Homo sapiens: one gene and its partners. The protein of the gene in region 3 interacts with the protein of the main gene of each other region in a pairwise test. Each region holds a gene or a part of one and is shown on either strand. Other genes may lie near its edges.

Region 1 (4,180 bases), on a different chromosome or scaffold from region 3:
ATTGATGGAAAGATTTGAGACATAATTGACATCTTTGCTGATAGAGACTAGCGGCCACCATGCTCTCGGGCTGCCTCTGAGGGGAAGGGAGTTTACTGGTGGTCATGAAGCCAGGTGTGTGGGTCTAAGGGTGCCAGGTGTGTGGGTCGGGTGAGGGCTCTGATTTGAGGTGACCTCACCAGGTACCAGCTGCGTGAGTGATTCTTCAAGCCACCCACTGCCATGGGCCTGTTCTCTGCTCTGGGGATGGAGAGGAGGGCCACCGTTTCTCTAAAACCCTCTCCTACCCGGATGTGCTGTGGGGAGTCCTTCATCCTCTGCCCTGAGATAGCCACGGGGAAAATCAAACAATAAAAACCAGGTCCTGGGAGGCTGGAGTGTCCTCTCCAAAGCAGGAGGGCAGATACTGATCCTGGGTCTCTGAACGTGCAGTGTTCCCAATGGGATGCCCCCTCCTCCTCCAGAAAGTGTAGGCCACGGGCAAAATGGGCAACCCCTTCACAGAGTCCACTAAAGCCAGTTGCCAATTTTGGATCAGAAACAAGCCCACTGCTGTGAAGGGCATGGCCAGCACCTGCCCACTGCAACCCAGTCAATAAGACTAGGAACCCCACCAAAAAATAGGGAGGCAATGGGGTCCCCTAGACTGTCAAGAGCACCCCAACCTCTCACTAGTAACCAGGGAGGTGGTGCAAATTAAGATATCATTAGAGCAAACAAGGTAACTCCAAGTGTTGATGAGGGTGAGGGAAGCAGGGCCTCACACGTCACTGGTGTCACTGAGGAAGGCAGTGCTGGGTATCTGCCAACCTTGGCAATATGCACAGCCCACCAGCCTCCGTCGTGCGTCTAAGCAGATTCCCTGGAGAAATGCAAGGAGCCTAAAGAGACATGTACAAAGATCTTGATTGCAGGGTTATGAAATGGTTTTAAAATAAAATAATTTAGATGTTCATCAATGCGGGAATGAACAAGTGCAACATTGTATATGTATACATGAACTATTACACAGCCTTTAACAAATTCGCGCTGACAAACTTCACTAGACACGTGTGTATCAACAGGGATTAATTGAAAAGACATGGTAGAGGAAAAATGCCAGTTGTAGAATAATTTGAATAACAGCTTATGATTTATGTAAAACAAGTGCTATCTATAAGTCCGTTACTTAAATTTCTGGGAGAAGGCAAAGCAGCTTCACCCTCTGGGTGAACCCTGGAAAGGGGGAGGGTGGGAACCACGATGGAGAGGAGTGGCAACTTCTTCTGTGATTTTTATTGAAGAGAATATGGTCTTGCGTAAGTTCTGTTTCCTCTAGTGATTGAATACTACTTTCTAAATTGAAAATTATATCACAGGCACTTTGCTGAGTAATTAGAAATTCTTCCAAACCATGATTTCTAATGAATGCACGGTAAATAGATTTGCTATCAGTTATGGAGTTTTTCTTCTTTCTTCTAAATAACCCTAAATAACCTTCTAACTTTCTTCTAAATAGCCCTAAATAGATGGTTCATGTGCAAAGTTTTGCCTATACAGTACTTTGTGCTCTTTCCTCGGGAGAAATTTCTGGAAGTAGAATTATTAATGCAAAGAGTGTGGGCATTTTAAGACTCTCAATACCTATTGGCAAATTGCTTCACATAAAAGTTGAAAGGTCTGTCCTTAAGTCCTGCTGCATCTTTTACACATTGAGCAGAACTTTTATCCTTTTTATTGAAAAAATCTTTGTGAACTTGACAGATGAGAAAAATGCCGTCTCGGAGCTATTTTATTTCCATTTTTATTGTTAGTGACAATGAACTCCTATGTTGGGTCATCCGTCGTTTTTCCTTTAATTTAAAATAACTGTCTGCCTGAAATCCCAGCCAGTCAGGAGGCTGAGGCAGGAAAATTGCTTGAACCGGAGAGGTGGAGGTTGCAGTGAGCTGAGATTGTGCCACTGCACTCCAGCCTGGGTGACAGAGAAAGACTCCATCTCAAAAATAAAATAAAATAAAATAAAATAAAATAAAATAAAATAAAATAAAATAAAATAAAATAAAATAAAAACTGTCTGAATCTAAAGAAACGCAGCAGCTACCTAAATTTTGTCTAGGTTTTTGGTTTTGGTTTTTATATGTAATTTGAAGTTTGAGGTAAAATACAAATGTGAGGTTTTTCCACAAAATTTTCCCACACCATCAAGGAGATGCTGGGCCCACGGATCATTGGAAGACCAGGTTTTAGGTCTTGCTGTCAACTTTCTTTCATTTTTTCTACCTTTGACTTTGGAATCAGACTAAGGTGGGTCTGAGAGCAGGACTTACACTGACCAGGTCTGTGCCACACACAGCTGTGCCGCAGTGCCTCCCACCAGTAGGATGGCTGTGAGATTAATTTATGTCATGAGCATATATGATGTCTTCAGTGTGCCCTATAATTCTGCATTGCTGTCATTGTCATTCTGTTGTGTATCCTCAAAGGGGAAAACTCTTTTTGTTGTGACAGTGGGTGATGCCGGCTTGCTCTCTGTTGCAGGCTGCATGATCATTGCAATGACCCTTCCCTAGACGACCCCATCCCCCAGGAGTATGCCCTTTTCCTCTGTCCAACGGGGCCCCTGCTGGAAAAACTTCAAGAGTTCTGGAGAGAGAGCAAGCGCCAGTGTGCAAAGAACAGAGCTCATGAGGTCTTCCCACACGTGACACTCTGTGACTTCTTCACGGTGAGTCAACCCAGTGTGCCTTCAATGCTCACGGCAGCTGGAGGCATTTTTCTGTGCTAACTAGGCCATGATGGGACAAAGTTGACTTATTTAAATGGGATAGTCCAGAACTGCATCATTAGCTGGCACCTTCATATGAGCTGTCCTTTATTTTCCTCTTTGCCTTCATCTGGTCAACTCCTATTAATCCTTCAGAACCCAACTCATTTATCCTCTCCCCTTTTTGAGTCTTCTCCAGCTCCCCAGGCAAAAGGAGTTGCTGCCCATTTTCTCGTTCATGTGTCTAGTGGCACTTTTGTATCATACGGGCCATGTGTCTGGTGCAGCACCGCATCCCTCACCAGACCGAGTCCCTCAAGGGAAGGCAGATACCTCACTCATCTTTGCACCCCCAGAAACTAGCACAGCCCCTAAAACAGAGTTTGTGCTTCCAAAATGTGTGGTAAGTCAACTCAAGGATGGGTGATTGTTGGCTACCCACAAATGCAGAACTTTTCCCTGTCTCAGGGACCAGCCGTCTGATTCAGAAAAAAAATGGCCCAGTGGGTAGCTCCACAGCAAAACACAATGGCCCAGCAGGCAGCTCTACAGGGGCACCGGGAAGACAAGAAGAATGTGGGAGCTGCTCAGGAGAAAAGAAGGAGAAGGGAGAGACAGACAGCCACTGCTCTACTCAGCTCCGCCAGAGGGGCTTAAGGAAGGGCACACCCACTTCTGCTACCGCGGCCTGGCCCCAACTCTGCTGTTGGCAAACTGATTTGTTCCACCCATTTCAAGGAATTCCATCAGGGCCCAAGGAACCCTCCATTCCAACACCAGGCCCCTCGGTGCTGGATGGAAAGGAGGAATGCAAACCTCTGAAGGGAAAAGATTTCTGGAAGATGTCCCAGGAGAAGCAGTACCTTCCAAAGCCTCCAACCACCACCCCGGATTGCCCGAGACTTGCAGGGATCCCCAGAGCACAAGACTAAACCTGGAAAAGCCCCAGAAAAATCGAGAGAGTTTTCCCCCTACATCGACATCAATGGTACTTGTGACAAGCTGACTCCCTTCTGGTTCACCCTCTGGAGCCAACGGGGAAAGGCAAGGCAGCCCAAGCCATGTGACACAGCTCAGAAATCAGAGCAGGCCTTGGCCCCCCACTCCTTCCCCAGCCCACTGAGGTGCAAGCACACACACACACACACAGATAGACACAGAGACACACACATAGCTCACACACATAGACACACACAGATTGACACAGAGACTTACACATGCACACAGATACACACACATACATGCATACAGACATACATAGATATAGACACACAGACACACACAGATAGACACAGAGACGTACACACGGCACACACAGATACACACACATACATGCATACAGACATACATAGATATAGACACACAGACACACACAGACATGGAGACGTACACACGGCACACACAGATACACACACATACATGCATACAGACACA
Region 2 (4,180 bases), on a different chromosome or scaffold from region 3:
AAGGAAATAACTTTATACAAGAAGTGGGGACAAAACATGCACAAGCTTAGCTCTTCTAAAAGGGCACACCAGGCACCAAGCACTATCTTACCTATTTAAAAGGCTTGTAAATCTCTCCAGCAACTACAACCCAATAACCAATGTAATTTGCTGGGAAACCCACGGCCCTTCCAGGGGTCTCTTGTCAAGAATCAAAGCAACTGGGTGGAAAATGCTGTTCAATTTGAAACATGTTTTGACACCCAGAAGAACAAGCTTTAACCCAAAAATTATCAGTGGTGTGCTATTAGGAAAGAAAAGATAGCTCCAAGCACACAGCCCAGGAAAGAAAGCAGCTTAAAAAAATCTGAGTCAAAGTATCACTAATTCTTGCTTAAAAAGAGAGGAAATAATGGATTTGAGTTTTCATTCCCCCACACTTCCCAAATCACTGGGAGGGATCTCCCAACTTCAAACAGCTCTTCATTCTATATGGCTTGTGGGCATGACAGCTATCTGCCATTTTCTGGCTATGCTTGTTTGATCAGAAGGCTTATTTCACTGCAGTAACAAGCTGTCTTTTCTATGCTTTTATTCTAGTTCACATCACCCCAACCCTCCAAAGGATGCATGGCCCTGACATGTGAGAGGGAGAAAATACTGACCCCGTGACCAGCATTTGAGATGAGGGAGGAAACATGGCAAATCCTTATGGAAACTTCTACTTCCAGTGAGTACAAAACTCTCCACCCTTCCCCCTCAATCTCACATCCTTCTTTGGCTCAGAACAGGAGGGCTGGGCAGAAAGAACTAGTTTCCATTGCTTTACTTCCCCTACCTGAAGCCCAATTTGCAACCTAAGATTAGGAGAGAAGGGGTTGGGAGGTTAGTCCTCACCCTGAAAGCCTGAGGAGGAGGACACACCTGGAACTGGGAGAAGGGGGATTCTATGCCTGGCCAGGGTATACTCACATGATTGGTGCTCTCTGAAATCTGCTTCTCAATTAGCTGAACAATTTGCTTGAATGTTGGTCTTTTTAGGGGATCTGCATCCCAGCAAGTCTTCATTATGTCATACCTGCAAGACAAGGGCCATTTACTATCCCTCCTCAATGCCCTCAGCTTGTTTTCAAATGTATGGGCATCCAGCAACTTCAGTAATAATTCCAGGGCTATGCAACTGGACATATGGACTGACATATAGATAACATAAAACACTGCATGTATGAAATATTACTGAAACTTTCTGTATTTTTGGTGACAAGAGATTATGAAAATAAACTACAGAAATGACATTTGACCAGTGTGTCATAAAGAATCCAAGTGACATTTCAAACTGTGTTATGAAAACCCTCAACATCTGGGTTTCTGTCTCTAAAAAGAAAAATAAAAGGGAAAACGTGACCTAAAGGAAAAATTTTTTGGCTCTTACATTTCAGCAGGTGCGTGTTCAGGGCTGAGCATCCGGAAGCCTTCCTTGATCATCTTGTAGAACTTAGAATCGACCGGCATTCCAGGATAGGGGCTGCTTCCTGAGACACAGTTTGCAAAGCAGTGTTAATCACAAGGAAGCAGGACACCAATGAAACTTCAAGAAGATGCTCTGAGTCTAATGAAGTTGTCTTTGGCAAGGATCATTTTACCTAAAGAGAACAGCTCCCAAAGAAAAATCCCATAGGACCAGACGTCACTTTCAAACGTGTATACACAGTTGAAAATGCTTTCAGGTGCCATCCACTTCACAGGTAGTCGAGCCTGTAATAGAAGCACAACAGAGTCAATAATGTTAATTCAGAAGCTCAACAAAATTGAACAGAAGATATTCTTATAGATGCTGCTGTTGCTGAAATGTGGAGTGATAACTTGAGTACCATCTCACAAAAACCTTTTACCTATATGAACTCAGATGATCCCAATCACCTCTGAAATACATGGCTCACAAGTGCATTATCCCCATTTTAAGATGTGAGCACTATGTCAGTACGGCATGGAGATTAAGAGCACAAACGTCAGAGACAGCCAGACATTTTAGCCCTGGCTCCACCATGGGCCTTAGGTAATGCAGAGATTTGTTAGTTTCCACTGAATATGTCCCTCTCCTTCCTTAAAAACAGAAACACGGCCTCTCACAATTAGGACTACATTTCCCAGCCTCCTTTGCAGCTAGCTAGCTGTAGTTAGGTGACTCGGTTTTGGCCACTAAGTTGTAAGTGCTGTATAGCAGCTTCAGGAAAACCTCCTTACAATATAGCTGGCACGTGCCCTCTGCCCTCTCTTCTCTAGTGCAAGGGCCCCCTGCCTTCTGGATATGATGGCTGGCTATCCACCTGGTGGTCATCTTGGACCATGGACATGGGGGTTACACTCAGGAATGGCTAAGCATGGAAAGGAAAGACTTGCCCGGGTACTCCATGGAACCTTTATACCAATCCTGGTATAAAGTCTACTCCTAGACTTCTTTTATTTTGGGTTTTCTGTCAAAACCCAAAACTTTCTCTAATACACTGGGAAAGTCACTAAAATATTTGTAATTAAGCCTCAGTATCTTCTTCTGTAAAACAAAATGAATACTTTTAATTTTATGAATTGTCTTGTGGGTTAAATAAGATAAAATGGGTAAAAATGCTTAGCACCGCCTGACTCAGTGCTATCTGAAAAATTGCCTAGAAGAAAGGCAAGTACTTGATAAACAGTAGTGGCTTGTGATCCTGACTCTTTGGAGAACTCTCTCCATTAAAGTTGAGCTAAACTTTCTGTAACTAGTCCTTTTAGATGCATTCTGGATTCCCAATCTTAATCTGCCATAAAAAGCTAAATCAATCCTTCTCTTAATCCATTTAGGATTGAAAACTGGGAAAGCTTTTTTTTTTTTTCTTTTTTTTTTTTGGTGTTAAAGTTATTTTAGTCAGCTTACAAAAACAAAACAAAAAACTTCCAATATCCCTTCCCTTCCTAGATGTTGTGCTAAAGTTCCTATAAGGGCTCCTAACCTGAGATCTATGGGTGTCAAATTCAGGGGCCTGTGAACTTGGAAAGGAAAAATGACATCCTTATTTTCGCTAATTTCTAGATGAAATTTAGCATTTCTTTAAATTACTAACAAAGGTGATAAAACGCAGTAGTATCAGCTGTACCTGTGACTTTGTCATGAACAGTAATCATAAATATCTTCATATCCTATTAAGTCTTTATAGGTATCTCAAAATCATATTTACATTAATCACCACTCTAAAATTACAGTGGTTTTTAGAAAAAATAGCAAAACCCACAATTACTTTTACACCAACCTAACAGAGCCTGTTACACTCTATAGTAAACACATGTACTGACATATCACAAATTTACTTAGTATCTTCATAGCTATTTCGATTTAACTGTTTTCCTTGGTATTCCTATGTATTTCATCATAGGCGTTGAAAACAGTGTTCTGATAAGGGTCCCATAGGCTTTACCAGGCTCTAAAAGGGGCCATGACATGAAAAACAATGAAGAACTCATGTGAAAGGAAAGAACTTCAGAGAACCTGACACAACAAGGAGATCTCAAATGATGATGACAAAAATGTGGGGCGGTAACATATATGAGTTTCCTTCTTCTTATCTTGTTCCAGAAATTCTCCTTACCCACTAGCCTGGTGAAAGCGAGATCTGTGATTGGTTAGTTCAACTGACTTGAACTGGAGTCTACAATCTGGAAGCCTGATAGAGCCAACCCCTCTTTGTCATTTCAAACTAAGGTCACTAACCAATAACAAGACAGTATGTAACCACCGTCACGATTATTTAGATCGTAAATAAGACATCTATAAAGAATAGTAACAATATGTCTGGCACTGTCATAAGCACTTTACATATATTAACTCATAACTTTCTGAGTCAGGAATCACTATTATTCCCAAGGGGAGAAAAACAAAGATTCAGAGGTATTGGACAACTCTTGACAAAATTACACAGGCATGAAATAATGGAGACAGATTGCAGAATTCATCAAGACTGGGCCTGGAGGCGGCCACCTTCTTCCTCCTCCCTTTGGTCAATATTCAGAGGACTGGATAATTAACGACTTATCATTCTTCCTTCCAAAATTGCACCAGGATGAAGAGAAGTTGTTTTTATTATCACTCCTGATGATAATATCTAGCTTCAGGGCAGCCTTTTCAGAAATTCATGCTTTGGCCAGGAGATAAACACAGAAACACTCT
Region 3 (4,180 bases):
CTGTGAGCCACTGTGCTGGGTCTGAGTCTGACATTCTACTCTCCTCCAGATAATAATTATCATGAGCACTTCCCTAGCACCTCCTCTGTGCCTGCACTGTTCTGAGCACTTTGCATATATTAAATCATGTACACCTCACAAGCTCCATCTTTCTAGATGAAGAAGGTGAGGCCCAGGAAGGTCAAGTCGCTTGCCCATGGTTGAAAAGTTGCCCAATGTGGAGCCGGCATTTGTGCCTGGCTACTGGGTCCCCAGCCAGATGCTGACTAGCATGTGCCGGAGCCTCCAGGCAGCACACAGCTGTCATTTACATTCCACACAGAGTCCTGTATTTTCCTCCCTAAGTTTTGCAGTATAGAAATGACAGTTTATGACATTTCCTCATGGACCCCCCCGCCAAAAAAAAAAACCAGTGAGTAGAATAAAATATGTTGGTTTACGTGCATAAGATTAGAAGCTGGGAGCCGGGTCAGGGCTGCTGTGTGACTGAGGGGCTGGACTGGATCTATGTCCCCGATGCCTGCCTTTTCCCTCCTTTCCTTTCCCAGTGCTTTTAGATAATATGCACAAAGACTCTGAGCTCTGTGAAAGACGGGCCCTATACAAATGCAGGCCAACGTCGCTGACATTTGACAGCTGGGTGCTTAGGATCAGTGAGGTTTTGAAGCCTTGATTTTCCACCAAGTGCCCTGAATCTTTCTCTTCCCCCATTCCCTGAGATTCAGACTACAGACCCCATGTTCTCTGCATCTCCTATCTTAGAAATCTCATCTGTTCTCACCAAGTGAACCACCCTTTCCAGGTGGACCAAGCCCTAATTTAAGTTTTCAGCTCTAACTCCCCTCCTGGACCCCAAAACTGCTGCTGGACTGTGGCACTCAACAAGCCCATAGTCTTCCAGCTCAGATGAAAAAGTGTGTTTTATCCTCCAAAGTCCCCTCCCTCCTGGTCACTCCTGTGGTCTCCAATGTGCCCTCCTCTGACTCTACCACGTGAAGAAGAGTCCTGGGAGGCCAGGCTCCTACATCTCTTGACTCTCCCTCCACTCCACTCCTGCAGCCGGGGCCCTCCATGACTCACTAACTGGGTTTCCTGTTCCTGTCTCTCTCCTCACCCCCGGTACATCACTGTCCATTTCTATTCTTAGGACACCGTGTTCGCTATGCTGAGTCTGTACAGCTCCCTTAAAGCCCTGCACCTGGCATTAAGGCCCCCATGATCTGGCTGGGGCTATCTCCCTAAGCCCACTGCTACGGGTCCCTTGCACAGACCCTTTGTTCCAGCCCTACCAGCACATTCACTTCAAGCTCTTCATACCATTTTCTGTCCCCACACTTATGCCCATGCTATGCCTCCCACCTGGAACACCCCCAGCCCTTTGCAGCATCTATCCAAATTTCCCCCAGCCATCAGACCAGCCTAAGTCTACCCCCTTCACAAGGTATCCCCATCAGCACCCCCCGAAATTCTTCCTCAGCTCCTGTACCATTCATTGCTGACACTGCTCAGCTGGGAGCTAATTGTTCACTGCCTCGTGACAGCTATTCTGCGAACAGTCGGCATTCCTATTAACATCTTTTATTTCTTTGTTCCATGATGAATTCTTCACCTGCCTAACTAACCTTGGGCACCCCGGCGCCCCTCATAGTCCTGCAGAGGAGGCCCTGACCTACCTGAGGAGGTTTCCCCTGGGCAAATTCTGCTCTCGGGCCTGGACGCCACCCATGGTGAGGCTCAGCCTCTTGGCCACATCCGGCCTTCCCTTGGTGAGGCTGCCCTCCCGGGCCTGGCCTGGGGAGGTGCCATAATGCTCCTCCAGGCACCGCAGAGGCACCGTCCTGTTGATGGGCTGGAAGATGATGGCGCCACTCTGCTGGGAGATGGGCCGGCGGTTGCCCACGTAGCAGCGCACCAGGCCGGGGATGGAGTCGAAGCTCTCCATCTCGAACTGGTACTGCACGCGGCTGTAGGCCTCGCTGAGTCGCAGAACTGTCCGGTTGATTTTGAAGTGCTGAGCGAGGTTCTTCCACTGACAGGTCAGGACAAAGTTCCCAGGGCTGGACAGAGAGTCACGAACTAGGAAGTCACCATCTCGCTGCACAAGGTTTTCAGACACCTTTGGGACAAAAAGGTGAGTGAGGAGTAGGAAAGGCAAATTCACATTCCTTCTAAAAGCTTATGGCTACCCACTTCTCTGGGCCAACAGAAGACAATGCTACTATGTCTCTTCTTGGGTCAGCTCTTTAGTTTTTCAAAGATCAAATTCATAGAAGAGCCAATCATTCATTCAAGAACTATTCACTGACCACCTACTCGTGCCAAGCACCACTGCAGGCTCAGGGGATGCAGTGGTGACAGTGGCACACAAGAGCCCACCTTATGGAGCTCCTGTTTTTGGTGGGGAGCTTCTGTTTTAGTGAGGATAAATAACCAGTGGCTATGGTATGTCAGCTGTAAGGTCAGGGAAGAAGTAAACCAGGAAAGGAGGCAGGAAGTGCCGGGGAGGGGATGAGGGCTGTCCAGTAAAATAGGGTGGTTGGGGAGGTGTCACAAGAACATGACGTTTATACAGACCTGAATGATGTAATGAAACAGGAAATAAGAAATGAGAAAATGTGTGCCTGGCAGGCCTGATTTTCCCTCCCCAACAAGTGGAGTGAAGAGAAAGAAGGGTATTTGTTGGTGTCTAGAAGTCATCCTAGGGGCCCTCTCCTAAGATGCCCCTCTCCAGGCCTGGCCAGTGGGGAGGAGGAGTCCACATGCAGGACTGGGGTATAGATTCTGGACACACCAATTACTGGCTAGAAGGCCTAGAACAAAGTCAGGCTGGGGTCCCTCATCTTACAGTTACTATCAGGGTTATGTATTTGTATACATAACATATGTAAGCACTGGAACACAGTGGATGCTCAAAAATAGTTAACAAGCATGATGCTGCTGCTTACAGCAACTGGAGAATTTATAATGTGGTGCAGCCTGGCTGTTCCTGTAGCCTGACCACCTGGGTTTGCATCCTGGCTCAGCTGTATGACTCTGGACAAATTACATAATCTCCTTGTGGCTCACTTATATCATCTGAAAAACACAAATGATAATATTACCTATAGAATGGCTACAAAGATTTAAGGGGCTAAAATGTTAGCAATAACTCGTTATTACGGTTATGGTTATAGTGTTCAGTTATCCAGTTTGGAACGATTTATCACTGAAAATTAATACTCATGCAAGTAGTAAACGAATGTAATGACCATGATAAGGAGACGGACGGTGGTGATAGTATCGGTTTTATAATTCTGACAATTTTTCTGGAACATTCCAACATTTGATCAACAGTATACTTCTGTTAGGTCAAAATAGTAGGCTACCATGGTTACTTTAAAATTGCATCTTTGCCTTAAAAATGTTTTCACATAGAAATGCCACTTCTTAGAATTGAGCCTGTGAAAATAATTGTAGGTATGAACACAGCAATCTTAAAGGATATTGGTCAGAGTATTAGAAACACCCTATGTGTCCAGTAAATTGTAGTGCATGCATACCGTGGACAGACATACAATGTAGGCTGGTGCAGAAGAATATTCTACAGTGGGTGAAAATTCCCAGGACATAGTAAGTGAGTAGAATGGGCTACCAAAAAAGTATATGTAGTACAATCTCATACTTGATTTCAAAAAGCCCGGGAGGATGTATGTACACAAAAGTATTCATCGTGGTTATCCCCAGGAGAATTATGAGGAGAATTATGGATAAGAGTTTAATTTCCTTCTTTTTGCTATCTATGTTTTCTACAATCAATTTTAAACTTAAAAAAACAAAGTCAGAATAATAATTATTTATTTGATTGTGCCAAGAAATCTACTACATTAAAAAAAAAAAAAAAAAAAAAAAAGCCTGGGCACAGTGACTCATGCCTGTAATCCCAGCACTTTGGGAGGCTGAGGTGGGTGGATCACTTGAGGGCAGGAGTTCGAGACCAGCCTGGCCAACATGGTGAAACCCCGTCTCTACTAAAAATATAAAAGTTAGCAGGGCATGGTGGTGGACACCTGTAATCCCAGCTACCAGAGAGGCTGAGGCAGGAGAATCGCTTGAACCCAGGAGGTAGAGGTTGCAGTGAGCTGAGATTGTGCTATTGCACTCCAGCCTGGGTGATAGAGTAAGACTCTGTCTCAAAAAAAAG
Region 4 (4,180 bases), on a different chromosome or scaffold from region 3:
GTTACGAACTGTTTTCAAAAGCAATTAAACATTTAATTTGTAAGCTCTCTACTTATGCTAACATCTCCCACACTCATTGTTTTTTTGTCTGAGACCATTATTCTGAATACCTGATAAAATTTAATTTCTCTCTGCTTCTCTCCACACCTACCCTGAATATTGTAGTGCTACGTTTAGCTATAAAGGTAGCTTTCTTCATTTTTTAATTATCCTATACTGTACTTCTGTTTCCAAGGAATAATCAACCCATTTAAAAACATGCCATTTTTCAACACTAAAAAGACTACTGTACCTCTGTAGTTGGGCTAGGAGATAACTTCTCTTCTTCTGACTGGGTGGGCATTTTCAAGCCTCCATATTTTTTCCAATAAAGCCAACAAATTGCACATAATCTACACTGCATATTAGGTGGGCCCCAAGAATACCACTGGTGAGACTGTGTAGCTAAAGCAGAAGAAAAATAAGAAAAAACGAAAAATGCTATTTAATTTGTAACATCAACACAAAATAATCAAACATTTTAAAAATACTTGTCATGCTTAGTTTACAATGTTATTGTTCCCAGCTTACAAGCCAAACATAATAGTATATTTGTTTTTTTAATACTCAGAATTCATTAAACCAACTTATTTCCATTATTATATAAAGTGCTTGTGGCCCTGTTAAAGCTATTCAGTGAAGCATCCTGTATTATGCATTGTGCTGCTGAGGGAGTTTTTGTTTTGTTGATTAAAAATACTCTATTGTGTATGTTTCTGGAAATAGGTTCTCAAAAAGATGGTAGTATTTAAAAAATCTGGGGCCGGACATGGTGGCTCACGCCTGTAATCCCAGCACTTTGGGAGGTTGAGGCAGGCGGACCATGAGGTCAGGAGATCAAGACCATCCTGGCTAACACGGTGAAACCCCGTCTCTACTGAAAACACACAAAAAAAATTAGCCAGGCATGGTGGCACGCACCTGTAGTCCTAGCTACTCGGTAGGCTGAGGCAGTAGAATTGCTTGAATGTGGGAGGCAGAGGTTACAGTGAGCTGAGATCACGCCACTGCACTCCAGCCTGGGCGACAGAGTGAGGCTCCATCTCAAAAGAAAAAAAAAAAAAATCTAAATCCACGTTTCCAAACCCAGGGTTCAGACACCACTCCAAGGATTATTTAAGGTACTCAGGGAGGTCTCATTGATAAAGTCAGGAATCTAATAAAAACAGGTATCTGTCAGCCAGGTGTGGTGGTGAACCCCTGTAGTCCCAGCGACTACAGAGACTGAGGCAGCAGGACTGCTTGAGCCTGGGAGGTTGAGGCCACTGTGATTGCACCACTGCATTCCAGCCTGGGTTACAGAGGGAAGCGGGGAGGAGGAGGGGGCTGGGGAGGGGAAGAGGGAGGGAGTAGGGGAGGAGAGAAGAAACAAACAGGTATCTGTTTTGCACTCCTTTATTTTAATCAATAAGTAAAATCCTTATTTTAAAATCTCCATTTACAGACAGAATCCCTTTCAAGACTCTAAATCCATATGAAGTGAGCATGGGCAGCTGACATCACAGCATGCTTGAGGCCTAAAACTCAGATGATTTAACAGCTAGCTGAACACTGTAAGCTTGTGTTAGTTTTTGTTTTGTAGTTTAAATTACTGACATGTGACATTTAAAATACATGTGTGATAGATCTGAAGTTTAAGAGAAAACATTGAGGTTGAGACATAAGTTAATTGGGTGCATAAAAAATTGTAATTCTGTAAGTTTGCCTTAAAATATTATTTCTCTGACCTGTAAGTTACCTTCAAATGTTCAAACAGCACATGAAGATATCAACTAACACTTCACAAACCAATGTGAAAAAGAGAAAATACAGAGACCATTATATTCATGTTTATCGGGAATAACACTGTACACCCATCATGTATTATTTTTGGAGGATTATTATTTTAGGCTTTTATTTGTGTAAATATTTTAGGCCTATTTTAGGCTTTCATTTATACAAATAACTATTTTATACAAATGAAAGCCTAAAAGCCTTTCCTCCTATAATTTAGAACTAATAAGTCATTTTTTAAATTTTTTATTTTATTATTATTATACCTTAAGTTTTAGGGTACATGTGCACAATGTGCAGGTTAGTTACATATGTATACATGTGCCATGCTGGGGTGCTGCACCCATTAACTCGTCATTTAGCATTAGGTATATCTCCTAAAGCTATCCCTCCCTGCTCCCCCCACCCCACAGCAGTCCCCAGATGTGATGTTCCCCTTCAAAATCTTAAACATTAAGCTATGAATCTATTTTGAATTCTAAATATAAAATTTCACTTAAAACATACATTTTACGTAAACTAATCATGCAAATCATTTTAATAATTGTCAATAAATGCCTTTCTCCTTAAATAACTCAAATTCAATTGGAAAGTAGGTATCATTTAATAAATAGAAAACATCAAGTTCTATCTCTCTGTAAGGATAAATCTTATATTAAGATAACATTTTATCATGGAGATTAGTAATACATGAGTCTAAAGTAAATATTATAAAATAAAAATAGCTTATTCATCATGCACACATAAAAATAACAGAATAATCATTTAAGGGGATATACGTGAGTGTGAAAGGGGTTTGCAAGTTAATTTTTTTTTTGGGGGCGGGGGGGAGACGATGTTTCACTCTGTCACCCAGGTTGGAGTGCAATGGTGCAATCTCAGCTCACTGCAACCTCTGCCTCCTGGGTTCAAGCTATTCTCCTGCCTCAGCCTCCTGAGTAGCTGGGATTACAGGTGCATGCCACCATGCCTGGCTAATTTTTGGTATTTTTAGTAGAGACGGGGTTTCACCATGTTGGCCAGGCTGGTCTCGAACTCCTGACCTCAGGTGATTCACCCGCCTCAGCCTCCCAAAGTGCTGGGATTACAGGCATGAGCCACAGCACCCTGCCTGCAAGTTAAAATCAAGACAGGTTAAGCCACTACCACTTGTCTGCAGGATTCTTTTCATTTTCATTTGAATATACATGAACTACAAAATCCAAGAATTCCCAATTCAAGGTATTTATGATGCTATCCATGTAAAAGCCTGACCTAAAAAATCTTAATTTTCCACAAATTGTTTCCCTTTGTGCTCCCATGCTGCAAAAAAATGGTTAAACACATCCCCATGTACCATTTCTACAAATTCAGCAACTTGGCTCACACCTTCCTTGGGATCAATCGACGTAATCGTACTCACAGCCGTCCCTCATTCCTATATCCTTCCTGAAGGCAGTAGGCTACATGTACTCTCAAAGAGCTACTAAGAACCCAAAATGGGGCACCAAGTAGGTTTTCAATAAACATTCGTTTCCTTCCCTCTCCCATCCCAGGCTACCTTAACTGGAAGGAAACATAGATGATAATATCACCAATGCCCCATTAAGATATTGTATCCTTGCTTGAGATTTAAAATAAACACACAAAGTCTATCAACTACCTAACGGTTCACTTCACCGACCCCATTTAACACCCTGGGCAAATAAAATACTGCCACCATAGATAAATACAGTGGGATCCTGAGGCCAAAAGCAAGTATCATAGAAGAGCATTTCCCAAACTGGTGCACTGAGGGAACATGGTCTGAGGATTATATACAGCAGCTTATCCACACAGAGGCCTTTCCTACAGAATTACTTGGAGCTTTAATTTGTCAAAGTATACTGAGAAACTCCAAAGGGGAATTTGGTATGCATCATGGGAACACAGTTTCTGCAAAGCTAATATGACTCTAAACACAACTCAGCAAACACTGCTATGAAATAATCAACAAACCACAAGAGTACATCAAGGGAAATCCAATGCCTAACTTGAGTGTGTGGTACGTAATAAGGATTCAATAAACAGTCCCTCTGTTCCAGGCAGAAGGTAAGGAGGGGCATCTACTCATTTAGAGGAGACATGCTTGTGCCTTCCAAGGTGCACCGTACTGACCTCAGGCACTTCCCAGACGCTCACACCCCATGAGCCAGAACAGTTCCCGATGCTTAACTGACCTGCTAGAGAAAACTTACCATAGCAGCTCTCACAGGCTCTCCCTAAGAGAGGATTCTGAGGCTGGAACGTGGTCCCCACAGCTCCATTCACAGCACCAGGCTTCCCATTACTAGTGGATATTTGGTTGGGATTTGGTTTGCTGCTTTCAATGAAATTAAAATAAGGTGAT
Region 5 (3,571 bases), on a different chromosome or scaffold from region 3:
GAGATGGAGTCTCTCTGTTGCCCAGGATGGAGTGCAGTGGCACGATCTTGGCTCACTGCAGCCTCCACCTACCCAGTTCAAGCAATTCTTGGCCTCAGCCTCTCGAGTAGCTGGGATTACAAGCACCTGCCACCACCCCCGGCTAATTTTTGTATTTTTAGTAGAGACAGGGTTTCACCATCTTGGCCAGACTGATCTTGAACTCCTGACCTCGTGATCCACCCACCTTGGCCTCCCAAAGTGCTGGGATTACTGGTGTGAGCCACCTTGTTCGGGCCTGCTCTTTCTAATCACAGCAGAAGCGCACACTTTAAAGACCAGCTGGCAAGAATGATGGGAGGTTTTCCAGAAGTGACTATGGGCAAAGCCACGGTTATTCAGAACCCTGATAAGGGACCAGGGCACACAACACAGACGCTCCGTGGAGTTGGACAGGCCCACTCTGTGGGTGAAGGTTTGGTAGTTATTGACCCAGAAAGCCACACACTTTTTTTTTTTTTTTTTTTTTTTTTTTGAGATGGAGTCTCGCTCTGTCGCCCAGGCTGGAGTGCAGTGGCACGATCTCGGCTCACTACAGCCTCCGCCTCCTGGGTTCATGCCATTCTCCCGCCTCAGCCTCCCGAGTTGGGACTACAGGTGCCCGTGACCACGCCCAGCTAATTTTTTTGTGGTAGAGATGGGGTTTCACCGTGTTAACCAGGATGGTCTCGATACCCTGACCTCATGATCCGCCTGTCTCAGCCTCCCAAAGTGCTGGGATTACAGGTGTGAGCCACCACGCCCAGCCAGCCATACACAATATTTTAAGTGAAAACCACAGGTTATAAAACAATACAAATAGTATAATCCACTTTATAAGTTTTTAAACAAATATACTTATGCATAGAGAAAATCTGGAAAAATATATGCCAGCTATAAAGTGGTTCTTGCTCATGGGATAAATTGTGGGAGACTTTTTCCCTTTTTGCTTCTCTGTGTTGTGATTTCCTAAAGACAGGGCAGTGGTGTCCCTAGACTGCTCTGGAACTGCAGGACCTAACAGCCTCACTGTGTCTGCTCACCCAAGTCTGACAGGTGGCAGGGCAGTGTCTGAGGCCCACTGGGATGCAGACCCAGGAAAGCTGGGGTGGGGGGCTTCTGGTCCCCATCTCTGCAGCCTCATCCTCTCCCCAGCTACACAGACCCAGATGGTCACTGTCCTGGACCAGATGAAGGCAGGCACCTACAAGCTCACCTTCGACACTGAGGGCTACTGGAGGAAGAGGGGGCAGGAAAGCTTCTACCCACATGTGGAGGTGAGAGCCCCAGTGGGCTGGAGGGGGCTGAGGCTCATGACTCACTGGGATCTGCAGGCCAGGTCCTGCTGGCCGGGCATCATTTAGGCAGTGGGCAGACTGGTCCTGGGCGGTGGCAGGTAGGTGAGCTCACTTGCTTTGAGCTCCCAAAAGAAAGGTGTCCAGGCAGCAATAGACTCTACGAGGACACACCCGTCACTCACCTGCCCAGGGTCAGGCTTTGTGGGGAGGCTGGGCCAAGGGTGATTCATCCCCTCTTTGTTGACAGAGGTTTTCATCTGAGCCAACTCCAGCTCTCTGGGCCTAACCTCACTGCCTCACCCCACACTGGAGCCGCCGCAGAAGCGCCTGACTTACTGGGCTGTGGCTTCTGTGGAGTGTCCCTCTGGTGCGGAAGGTTCACCCCATCCCAGACCCTCAGTCTGGGCTGCTGAATTCTCTCAGGTGTGTTGGGGCCAGATAGGTGGTTTGCTGCTATCCCCTTATACTCTCTCCTGGCCTCTCCATCTCAGGTTGTTTTAACCATCACCAGCAAGGCCCAGAAGTTCCACGTGCCCCTGGTCCTACATCACCTACCGAGGGAGTTAGAGCGAAGACTGGCAGCGGGAGGCTGCCTGCCCGTTCCCGCACGCTGGCTGCACCCACCCAGCCCTCAACAGAGCGGGCTTTGTGCTCATCAGGGAGCATTGGCTCACCACTTCCTAGGGAAGTCCCGGCCCCCTGGAGAATCCCACTGGGCAGCTGTGACTCAGGTGTCAATGAAGTTAGTGCCAGCACCTGCAAAGCTGTCCATTCGGTGGGACAACAGTGGCGCGAAGACAGGCAGCACAGCGCGGCACTGCCCCAACCCCCAGGTGAGTGCGGGGCACTCTGAGAAGGTGCCGCCGACTGTGGTCGGAGGTGAGACCAGGGAGTAGGCCTGGACACAGGCTGGACGTGCGGCACCCAGGGAAGGGAGCGACAGGGACACCATGGGTGAGGGTCCTGCAGGTGGTTCTCCTCCACAGAGCCAGGAAAGAGGATGGCAAGAACATGTGAAAAGCTTTCATTTGCTGATGATAAAATCTAAAAAACTTGCTGTCCTTGGTGTGATAAGGGGTGTCATCCCGAGTGTTCCTAGGCTGGTTCTCTGGGCTGTGGCCCCCCAGGGGGGCAGCTACGTCGGGGTGCCCACCAGTCCCGCGGGGCCCTGGCCCAGTGTCTGTCCGATCACAGCTGTTTCCAAGGGCTTGAAGCCCACGTTGTCCAGAGGGATCCCGAAGGCCAGCAGCTTTGCCTCATACGTGCGCAGCAGGTCGTTATGGGCCTGTGGAGACAGGGCAGTGTCAGGGAGCTGAGGGTCCCCACGCTCAGGACCACCAGAGCTGAGTGCAGCTCCATGGAGGGGCAGCGTGAGCATCACGGTGCAGAAGGATAAAGCCAAAGGCTTATCAGTCATTTCCCGTGTGGGACACAGCTCCAAGCACCTTCACTGCGTTGGCTCAGGTAGCACGACAGGGAGAGGCTGTCACTATTCCTATTCCACAAATGACGAGACGGAGGCAGAGGGCAGGGACACTCAGGGCAGAGCTGTGGTCTGGGAGGGCTCTGGGCCCTGGCTGGGTGTTTCCCACTCAGGTTCTTCACGCCCTCCCTTCCCCTGTTGAATGACGTCTGTTTCCTTCCCCGGTGGGCACAGCACCTTCTGACTCCCTGCCCAGGGGAAGGGGCTGACCAGGGAAGCGTCCAGGTCCCCCCCTACACCCATCCCAGCAGAGACATGGCCTAGACAGCAGTGCACTGCCCCAGACCACACAGAATCCAGATGCTCTCGGCTATGACTGCACCCTCACGTGGGGACAGTGACAGCTGCCTTGTCAAACGAGGTACGAAGTGGGCACAGGTGGGGTCCTCAGAGACCGTCTGCATTTAGAACAGTCTGGGCACCGAGGGGGTGCCCCTGAGGGAGGGCAGGGCACAGCCGTACCTTACAGACCTGGGCCAGCTCATACTGCAGGTCCTTGATGGTGCTGTTCTTCGACTCAAGAACATCCTGAGGAGAGAGAGGTGATGGGAGTTTGAGACTCATCTTTTGGCCGAGGCAACGGGAGCGGCCTGGGGACTCCAGTGGGCGTTCTGAGAGATCCAGCGAATAGCAGCCTGGTTTGATGGATGCATCCATCCACACAGGGTTGTCAGCAGAAAAAGGTCTCCAAGGGTGGAGAGAAAACAAGGAAGAAGCAGAGAACTGGGAGCTTGCACAACCTGCCTCTCCAGCAACAGTCCAGGCCAGGCAC
Region 6 (4,180 bases), on a different chromosome or scaffold from region 3:
CAGCTCTCCGTCCACCCTTTCAGAAGCCCCAGGTGTGGAAGACACAGTGGCCACTGTCACCCCATCTTGAGGTGCAGGGGGTCCTGAGGCACCCAGGCTGCCTTGCAGAGACAGGCGCAGGGGGCACGTGGATGTCTGGACAGAGTGCTCACCGGGAAGGACTTGATGGACCACACGATCTCGCTGTTCTCGGGGACCCACTTAACGCTCCCCACCGTCGTCTTGAACTTGGGTGAGTCGGCATCATTGGGCACGGGAATGTGGATCTCCACGTTGTTGGCTGTTGACCGCCGCTTGAACTGGCTTTTGGCCTGCAGGCCAGGCCAATGCGGCCCGGGGTTATGGAGGCCAAGGTGAGCTGGCCAGCCTCTCCAGGACACATGCCCCTCAGCCTGGCCCGGGGGATCCTCCCTAGCCCCGCCCCTGGCCCCACTTCTCCAGGCACTACCCACCCCTTCTCCTGCCCTCGAGACTCTCCCAAGACCTAATTTCAGGAGTTTCATCTTCATCCTCCTGTCTGCTCAGCTTCCAAGGCTCCTCATCCCTCCCTCTGCCCTGCCCTCCTAGGACAATGTCTATGTCCCAGGGCCAGGCTGCGCTGGACAGGGTCGCTGAGGGGCAGAGGTGCTCCACCTGGGGGCAACACCTCTGGGAGTGTCCTGGATGCCTGGCTACAGGCCCCTCCCCACAAGTGGCACCATCTAGGAGCAGGCCCCAGGCGGTGTCCCCTCAGTGTCAGGTCACTCCTGCATCTGAGGCCACAGTGAGGGTGCACGGATGGCAGCCCTACGGCACCCCCAGCCCTCGGTTAGGCTCCTGGGACGGGCCAGAGACACCAGAAGGCCCTCAGTGGGTGGCCTCGGCCCACGCACCTTGATCATGTACTCGATGCGGCTGTGGGAGTGCTTCTCGATCACCGACTCGATCCATATCAAAGGCTTGACCTGCCAAGGAGGGCAAAGAGGGTGCTCACACCTGGCCTTGTTTGACAAAGGCCCATTTCAGAGGGGAAACCAAGGCCCAGGGCAAGGGACCATCTGCCCAGGTGTGGGCCCAGAGCCCTGCAGGGAGCGTACAGCCAGCGTCAGGGAGGGCCAGGGCAGACAGGCCGAGGTAGCCGGGAGCTACCGGGGAGGCCTTGGGGCAAATGCAGAAAACATGACCAGGGCCTGCTCTGGGGGCTGCCTGGGAAAGGGGTGGTGGTGGCCAAAGGGGTCTGTGCCCCTCAGAAAGCTCGGAGTCCCAAGTCCTCAGACTCCATCTCTGCAGAGCCAGGCAGCTCATGGAGCGTGGGGTGGGGCTGGCCCTGGCGCCTGCCTGGGCTTCACCTCCTGGAGGTGAAGGGGAGGAGGAGTCTGCCGACAGCCCAGCCCCAGGGTGGCGCACTCACGTGGGTGTTGAGACGGTAGGACATGAGCTCGAACTCGCCGTCGGGTGGGATGAAGGAGATGGTGCGGTCATTCTCGAAGCGTGATAGCCGCACACACTGGTGGAACTTCACATCCTCCAGCTCCACGGATTTGCTTTTGCCGCCTGGGGTCAGGGGTGAGGGTAGGACAGATCTGGGCCCTCCGGGTCACTATCTCAGCAGTACTCCTACCACCTGCAACCCACCCCGGCAGAGCAGGGCCCCCAGTCCACGCACTGAGAGCAGCCTGGGCCACAAACACCAAGGGGGCTGGGTCCCAAGACAACTGCCCCATCACTCCTCACACCCCTGGGGTCCCCAGGGGCAGGGCTGGTGGGTCTGGTTCATGCTGAGTCCCCAGCGGCCATCCCAGGGCCCAGCCAGGGGACCTGCTCAGGACACGTTCACTGAATGATTGATCAGTGGACTTGGCTGGGGGATGGCTCGGGGCTCCCCAAGGGCTCAGGCCCTGGCATCCACGGGGTCCTGGGTCCTACCTTGGTTTGCCACCTCACTGAGGGCTATGTGGGTGGGGCCCTGCCCAGCCCCAGGCGGGGAGCTGCCCTGATAGACTGATGCCCGAGAAGCCCTCACCGGGCTAGGAACGGGGGCATGCCCAGCCACTGCACCCTCTTCCAGTGGCCTGTGACAGCTGAGTGGGAGGCACAGTTCACAAAACCAGGCCCTGGGCCCCTCTGCCCCCGCCCTGCTGTGGGAAGTGTTAGAGGCCAGGCGGCGGGAGCGAGAATCACCATGCGTGGCCTTCACACGGCCCACACCTAGGGCCCAAGGTGAGGGGAGAAACCTGGCCTGGGAGGGAGAGAGCAAGGCCTTAGCCTAGGCCCCAGTGCCCCAGGCAGAGCAGGGCAGGGTGCAGGACCTGGCGTGTGAGGCCGGGTGACGGGGGCCTCCCAGCTGGACTGGAGGATCTTCACTCCCCTGCACCTTCTATGTCCAGGGAAGGATGAATACTCTACACAGCTGTCTCAAGCAGTGTGAAGTGCTGCTCAACCAAGTGCTTGAAACCAGCTCGTTCCTCCGCCTGGCCCAACCCTGCCCTAGGCTGTAATGTGTGTGCCTGGTGAGGCCATCCTCATGGGCAGGGCCCTTGGCAAGGGTACTCACGGCCCGTGTTGTCAAAGAGGACCTTGTCGTTGAGGCCCAGGCGCAGCTCGGGCATGCCCGAGAGGAAGACTCGCATCTTGATGGAGCCCACGATCTCGCTGCGCAGGACATTGCCGTTGGCGCTGACCTGGGGGTGGCGGTGTGGGCGTGAGGGGAGGTCCCCAACTCACCAGCCACTGCCTCCTACCACATCATGTGACCCTCTGGCCACCCCACTCTCAACGCCCTTCTCACCTCCAAGCCCATCCCTCTCCTGGGCATCCCCTGAGCTGGGAGAGTCCCAGCTGTGGCTAAGGTCTACCCCTAACCCACACCAACCCACGCCTGGCTGAGGGTCCCCAGGCTCACCCCTCCAGCCTTCATGCCGAGGCCCTGTGGACATGAGGTGGACACTGTGGGTCCTGCCCTCTAGGCCTCAGGCCACACTGGGACCTGATGATGCGTGCCTGGAGCCCCCTCTGAGGGTTCTCTATCAGGTACCAGTCCCTCCCTCCCAGGAGCCCCCTGAATGCTCCGGGCCGGCCCGGCAGCTGGTCCCCACGCTGAGTCAGCTTTGAGAGTCCATGAGCTCGGCTGGACCTGGGCCAGGACCCTGTGGTCCCTGCTCAGCCGATGGGCTGGGCTGGGCTGGGGTCTCTTGAACCAGGCCAGACTTGCTTTTCTTGAAAGCTGTTTCTCCTCTTGGCCTCCCAGGGAGGCCACTGGCCCCTCACCCCCCAGGGCTTATGAGAGATGGTGCTTCCTGAGTCCTGACCCCTTCTTGCTTCTCAGGGCCACCCTGAAGTGTGATAACACTTGATCCAAAATAATCAACTTAAATCCAGTCACAGTGGCTAACACTGACAGCATTTCCACTGCGCCAGGCATTGCTCCACACACGCCTCGACAACCTCTGGGGCAGGGACTGTGGGGAGATGACCTGAGGGGCTGTAACCCACTGCGCATGCCGAGATGCATCTGAAAGTGCAACTGAAAATCCACACCGGGGCGACGGTCCTGCACCCCCTAGCCTGTCCTGCGTGAGCCAAGATGCTGGAGCATCTCTTCTTGCATCCATTTTAGAGGTGAGGAAACAGGCACAGATCAGAGGCCCCGTGCTGAGGGCACAGAGTGACTGGCAGAAGAATCGCTGGGGCTGCAGCCCTGGCCACCACTGCACACTGCTATGCTGCACGAGGCCATGCTCACACCAGCAAGTGGGCCAAAGGCCACCGACTTGGATACCTGGGCCCAGATGCTGGCTCCAGCCAGGCTAACATGTGCAGGGCCTGCATTTCCTGTCTGCAGAGTGGCAGGAGAGTCTGTGCAGTCTTATGCATGATGTCCAAAAAGCACTGGGTAGACAAACAAAAGCCCCTCACCAGCTTGCCGCCTCTGAGGGAATTGGGAAAACTGAGGTGCCAAGCAAATGACAGCCCTGGGAGGGGCAGGGAACCGGACATGGCCCCAAGGGCTCCGGTTCTGTCACCTTCCCCAGCCTCACCTCCTCGTGCTGTCCTGTCCTCATCTCGCAAGCGGCTCCCTGATCCCATGGTGCACAACAGCTTCCCTGCGTCTGCCTGCTTGTCTCTCTCTCTCTCTCCCTGCTGGGGGAAGCCACGTGGGGCTGCGCGCTGCCGTGTCCAGCACCAGAAACAGCGTGTGTGG
Region 7 (4,180 bases), on a different chromosome or scaffold from region 3:
AATCCAAAATGATTTCCAAACATGTAATGCTTTCTGAGGAATCTCTTACATTTTTATTCTCAAAAAGAAAAAAAAAGGAAGAAGGAAGAAGAAACTTACTGCAAAAGAGGGGGAAGGATATTGCAGTCTAAGACATAGTCCCTGCACATGGTACTATCTCCAGCAATGTTGCCAAGAGCCCAGACTGCCTGTGAAAGAATCATTCATTAATAAAGGTTACATAGTTTAATTCCCTCATAATTCTTTCAGATGCCAGTATATCACAATAACACGTTCATCAGGGAGTCAAATGAAACAGTTGTAGGATTGGGGGAGGAAGATAAATAATATCCTAAAGTGTACAACAAACAGAAGGTATTCGGTTTATTAAAGGAAAGAACTAATTCATTTTTGTTTGTTTTTGTTTTTTGATACAGAATCTCGCTCTGTCACCCAGTATGGAGTGCAACACAGTGAAACTCCATCTCTACTAAAAATACAAAATTAGCCGGGTGTGGTGGCAGGCGCCTGTAATCCCAGCTGCTTGAGAGGCTGAGGCATGAGAACTGCTTGAACCTGACAGGCCAAGGTTGCAGTGAGCCGAGATTGAGCCAATGCACTCCAGCCTGGGTGACAGGGACAGACGGAAGGAGGGAAGGAGGGAAGGAGGGAAGGAGGGAAGGAGGGAAGGAGGGAGGGAGGGAGGGAGGGAAGGAGGGAAGGAAGGAAGGAAGGAAGGAAGGAAGGAAGGAAGGGAGGGAGGGAAAGGAGGGAGGGAGGAGAGAGGGAGGGAGGGAGGGAGGGAGGAAGCAAGAGAAGGAGGGAAGGAGGGAGGGAGGGAGAGACGGAGAGACGGAGGGAAGGAGGGAAGGAGAGACGGAGGGAAGGAGAGACAGAGGGAAGGAGAGACGGAGAGAAGGAGAGATGGAGAGACGGAGAGAAAGAAAGACGGAAAGATGGAGAGACAGAAAGAGAGAAAGACAGAAAGAAAAAAAGAGACAGAAAGAGAGTATTTTCTTGCTTACATAAGAAAACAGTGAACAAAAAGAAACTTGCTTTCTGTACTTTTCTGCACAAAAGTGGCAAAGACTAGCCACTTTCTTTTTTTTTGAGATAGGTCTCACTCTGTTACCGAGGCTGGAGTGCGGTGGTGTGATATCGGCTCACTGCAGCCTCAGCCTCCTGGAGCTCAAGTGAACCCTCCCACCTCAGCCTCTCAAGCAGCTGGGACAACAGGCGTGTGCCACCATGCCCACCTACTTTATTTTCTGTAGAGACTGGGTTTCGCCATGTTGCCCTGGCTGGTCTCGAGCTCCTGGGCTCAAGCAAGCTGCCCACTTCAGCCTCCCAAGTGCTGGAATTACAGGCAGGAACCACAGCACCTGGCCTACTTTCAACACTTGAAATTTCTACAAGAAAAAACCTCTATCAGTAACTGCTTACATGGTCTAAAAAAGTACATATACAGGGCTTAAAGAATGTCAGGTTTGGAAGGGGAAGATTATTTTATGTGTCTAAGAGAAATTCTGCCTACAGTCACTAAGAAATTTTCTATTTGGTTAAGACTAAATTTCTAGAACACTCCTTTGTGACAATCCATAGATTACCAAAGCCAACTGGTGAAACTCAGCCCCTTATTATGTTGGGAAATTTTGTGGTTTTTTTTGTTTTTCTTTTTTTGTTTGTTTTGTTTTTTTTGAGACAAAGTCTTGCTCTCGTCACCCAGGCTGGAGTGCAATGACGCGATCTCGGCTCACTGTAACCTCCACCTCTCGGGTTCAAGCAATTCTCCTGCCTCAGCCTCCCAAGTAGCTGGGATTACAGACACGTACCACCATGCCCGGCTAATTTTTGTATTTTTAGTAGAGACGGGATTTCACCATGTTGGCTAGGCTGGTCTCGAACTCCTCGTGATCCACCCACCTTGGCCTCCCAAAATGTTGGGATTACAGGAGTGAGCGACATGCCCAGCCAAAAACTTTCTTTCACCTGCTTCTTTTTGTTTCATTTTTACCTGTTCCTGGACATCTTCAAACTCTGAGCTGAGCAACTCTATGAAGATGGGCACAGCTCCTGCCTGAATCACAATTCGGGTCTGAAGAGAATTTCCTGAAGCAATATTTGTCAGTACCCAAGCTGATTCAAACTATAAAGATAAAAATAATTTTCATTATCTTTTTAGAATGTAAAAGTTTGTTTACTTATAACAGTAACATTTTCTGTACATGAAAAAAAGATTCTGAGATCATTATTTGCACATAACCTATCAGTTGAGTACTATATTAATTTTAAAAGAAGAATATCCAGAAGAAATACCTCAACCTAGAAGAATATTCAGGGTGTCTAAAATTTCAGTTCAAGAAAGAGTAAACATGACACCATAAAAAGAATGAGAGAGTGTTACATATGCTGATATGGTATGATCTCCCAAGATATAAATGAAAACAAAATGCAAACAGTGTACATTAATATGGCATTATACCATATTTTCTAAAAGCGTTAAAAAGGAATATATGCATTAATTTACTTATTGCACAGATTATCTTCAGAATGAGTTAGAGGAAACTAAATACTTGTTGCCTGCATAGAAAGGTGATGGTAACTAGGGAATAAGGATGAAAAAGATACTTTTCACTGGAAAGCTTTATGTGCCTTTTAGCCTGTACCATGTATGTTATCTAATAAAAAAGATTTAAAAACTTCTGTAGAATGGGCAAAGTAAAATGGGGGGAGAATGTTAGTGTGAAACATAAAATACAGGCACAGTGAAAAAGGCAAAAGGTATCAAATGATAAGTAGGTGAAAGGAGTTAACAGCACATAATGAAAAGAAATGACAACTTCAAAGAATAAGAGCTTCCAATAAATGAGAGAGCTCCAAACCAAAATACAGAGATAGGACTTTTTGGGCATTCTTAATAGGGAGGGAAAAATGAAGGTAAACTGACTAAAGGTTGATATATAGCATTACAGCACTGGTAAACAGAAGATATAAAGGAAATTATGGCCAACAAAAAATAGAGCATATTACTAAAATATATCTCTAACACTAACTTGACTCTTTAGCTTAATATTGAGAAATCCAATAATGAACTCTTTTCTATTTAGTTAAGAGTTCTTAATTACATTTCAGGTTGTTTCTTCCACCATTCTGTCTTCTATTTAATAAAGCACATACACAGAAAAAAAGAAAAATTCCATGGCATGTCCTTTAAATCAGAGAAAATAACAAGTCGTCATCAAATGACCTGTGATTCTTCTAAGCTTCCAGATTAACTAAAAGGTAGCTGTCAGGTAGAAAACTAAATTCATTAATCTTTGGGAATAGAGGAAGACAGGAAAATGGGCCATCTGATCAAATCACGTTCAAAGCCATGTTAGTGATAGAAAATTCATAGCAGAAGACACATAACCAATGGATGTTCCAAAGAAAACTATAAAAGTGACATACATGAGTGAGGTAAGGTGGTTTAGTAGCAGCAGGGAGGCCCAGAGTAGGAGTACTTCGGTTAAAGAGCCCGTATCTGGTCCCTTTTTGTTATAACAAAAATTCTGGGGACTTACAGATTAAACCCCAGATATCATGAAATAAAAATTCTTCCCATATTTATCTCTATGATTAAATTACTAATGAAAGCAACACTCAGTCCCTTTCAGTACGTCTGAATTAAAACTTGACATTTGTACCGTACTTTATATTTTCTTTTTTTTCTTTTTTGAGACAGAGTCTCAGTCTTGTTGCCCAGGCTGGAGTGCAATGTCACGTTCTCAGCTCACTGCAACCTCCACCTCCCGGATTCAAGTGATTCTCCTGCCTCAGCCTCCCAAGTAGCTGGGATTACAGGCATGTGCCACCACGCCCGGCTAATTTTTATATTTTTAGTAGAGACGAGGTTTCATCATGTTTGTCAGGCTGGCCTTGAACTCCTGATCTCAAGTCATCCTCCCATCTAGGCCTCCCAAAGTGCTGGGATTACAAGCATGAGCCACCGCACCCGGCCACTTTATATTTTCAAAGTACTATTCACATACTCGCAGATGATCCCTACAACAACCCAGAGATGTAAAGTATCTGGCTTTTCTTGTGTACAAATGAGGAAACTATCTGAAAAAAAATCCAACAATTTGACTAATGACTCGAGTAATGTTACACAGTCAAAGACAAGGACTAAGTTACAGCCTCCTAATCTAATACATTACGA

What was found.
Region 1: the proteins of BCAR3 (region 3) and UBASH3A interact in binary tests that used the Homo sapiens proteins (3 or more experiments, as listed by UniProt).
Region 2: the proteins of BCAR3 (region 3) and KIT interact in binary tests that used the Homo sapiens proteins (3 or more experiments, as listed by UniProt).
Region 4: the proteins of BCAR3 (region 3) and MTA3 interact in a two-hybrid assay, tested with the Homo sapiens proteins (one large-scale study listed by BioGRID and IntAct).
Region 5: the proteins of BCAR3 (region 3) and DRC4 interact in binary tests that used the Homo sapiens proteins (3 or more experiments, as listed by UniProt).
Region 6: the proteins of BCAR3 (region 3) and AP1M1 interact in binary tests that used the Homo sapiens proteins (3 or more experiments, as listed by UniProt).
Region 7: the proteins of BCAR3 (region 3) and KPNA1 interact in a two-hybrid assay, tested with the Homo sapiens proteins (one large-scale study listed by BioGRID and IntAct).

What each region holds. Positions count from the first base shown.
Region 1 is NC_000021.9:42,406,902-42,411,081, forward strand, and holds part of UBASH3A (ubiquitin-associated and SH3 domain-containing protein A), read left to right. Parts: intron 1-2,520; coding exon 2,521-2,707; intron 2,708-4,180. UniProt on the Homo sapiens protein: Interferes with CBL-mediated down-regulation and degradation of receptor-type tyrosine kinases. Promotes accumulation of activated target receptors, such as T-cell receptors, EGFR and PDGFRB, on the cell surface.
Region 2 is NC_000004.12:54,734,052-54,738,231, reverse strand, and holds part of KIT (mast/stem cell growth factor receptor Kit isoform 1 precursor), read right to left. Parts: intron 1,735-4,180; coding exon 1,623-1,734; intron 1,512-1,622; coding exon 1,412-1,511; intron 1,058-1,411; coding exon 952-1,057; intron 1-951. UniProt on the Homo sapiens protein: Tyrosine-protein kinase that acts as a cell-surface receptor for the cytokine KITLG/SCF and plays an essential role in the regulation of cell survival and proliferation, hematopoiesis, stem cell maintenance, gametogenesis, mast cell development, migration and function, and in melanogenesis.
Region 3 is NC_000001.11:93,587,304-93,591,483, forward strand, and holds part of BCAR3 (breast cancer anti-estrogen resistance protein 3), read right to left. Parts: intron 3,865-4,180; exon of another isoform or gene 2,117-3,864; coding exon 1,674-2,116; intron 1-1,673. UniProt on the Homo sapiens protein: Acts as an adapter protein downstream of several growth factor receptors to promote cell proliferation, migration, and redistribution of actin fibers.
Region 4 is NC_000002.12:42,704,167-42,708,346, reverse strand, and holds part of MTA3 (metastasis-associated protein MTA3), read right to left. Parts: intron 4,154-4,180; coding exon 4,029-4,153; intron 445-4,028; coding exon 293-444; intron 1-292. UniProt on the Homo sapiens protein: Acts as a component of the histone deacetylase NuRD complex which participates in the remodeling of chromatin.
Region 5 is NC_000016.10:90,042,226-90,045,796, reverse strand, and holds the end of DRC4 (dynein regulatory complex subunit 4), read right to left. Parts: intron 3,328-3,571; coding exon 3,262-3,327; intron 2,896-3,261; exon of another isoform or gene 2,602-2,895; coding exon 2,452-2,601; 3' UTR 837-2,451; downstream 1-836. UniProt on the Homo sapiens protein: Component of the nexin-dynein regulatory complex (N-DRC), a key regulator of ciliary/flagellar motility which maintains the alignment and integrity of the distal axoneme and regulates microtubule sliding in motile axonemes.
Region 6 is NC_000019.10:16,224,901-16,229,080, reverse strand, and holds part of AP1M1 (AP-1 complex subunit mu-1), read right to left. Parts: intron 2,661-4,180; coding exon 2,534-2,660; intron 1,534-2,533; coding exon 1,391-1,533; intron 945-1,390; coding exon 873-944; intron 312-872; coding exon 153-311; intron 1-152. UniProt on the Homo sapiens protein: Subunit of clathrin-associated adaptor protein complex 1 that plays a role in protein sorting in the trans-Golgi network (TGN) and endosomes.
Region 7 is NC_000003.12:122,451,877-122,456,056, forward strand, and holds part of KPNA1 (importin subunit alpha-5), read right to left. Parts: intron 2,126-4,180; coding exon 1,994-2,125; intron 189-1,993; coding exon 100-188; intron 1-99. UniProt on the Homo sapiens protein: Functions in nuclear protein import as an adapter protein for nuclear receptor KPNB1. Binds specifically and directly to substrates containing either a simple or bipartite NLS motif.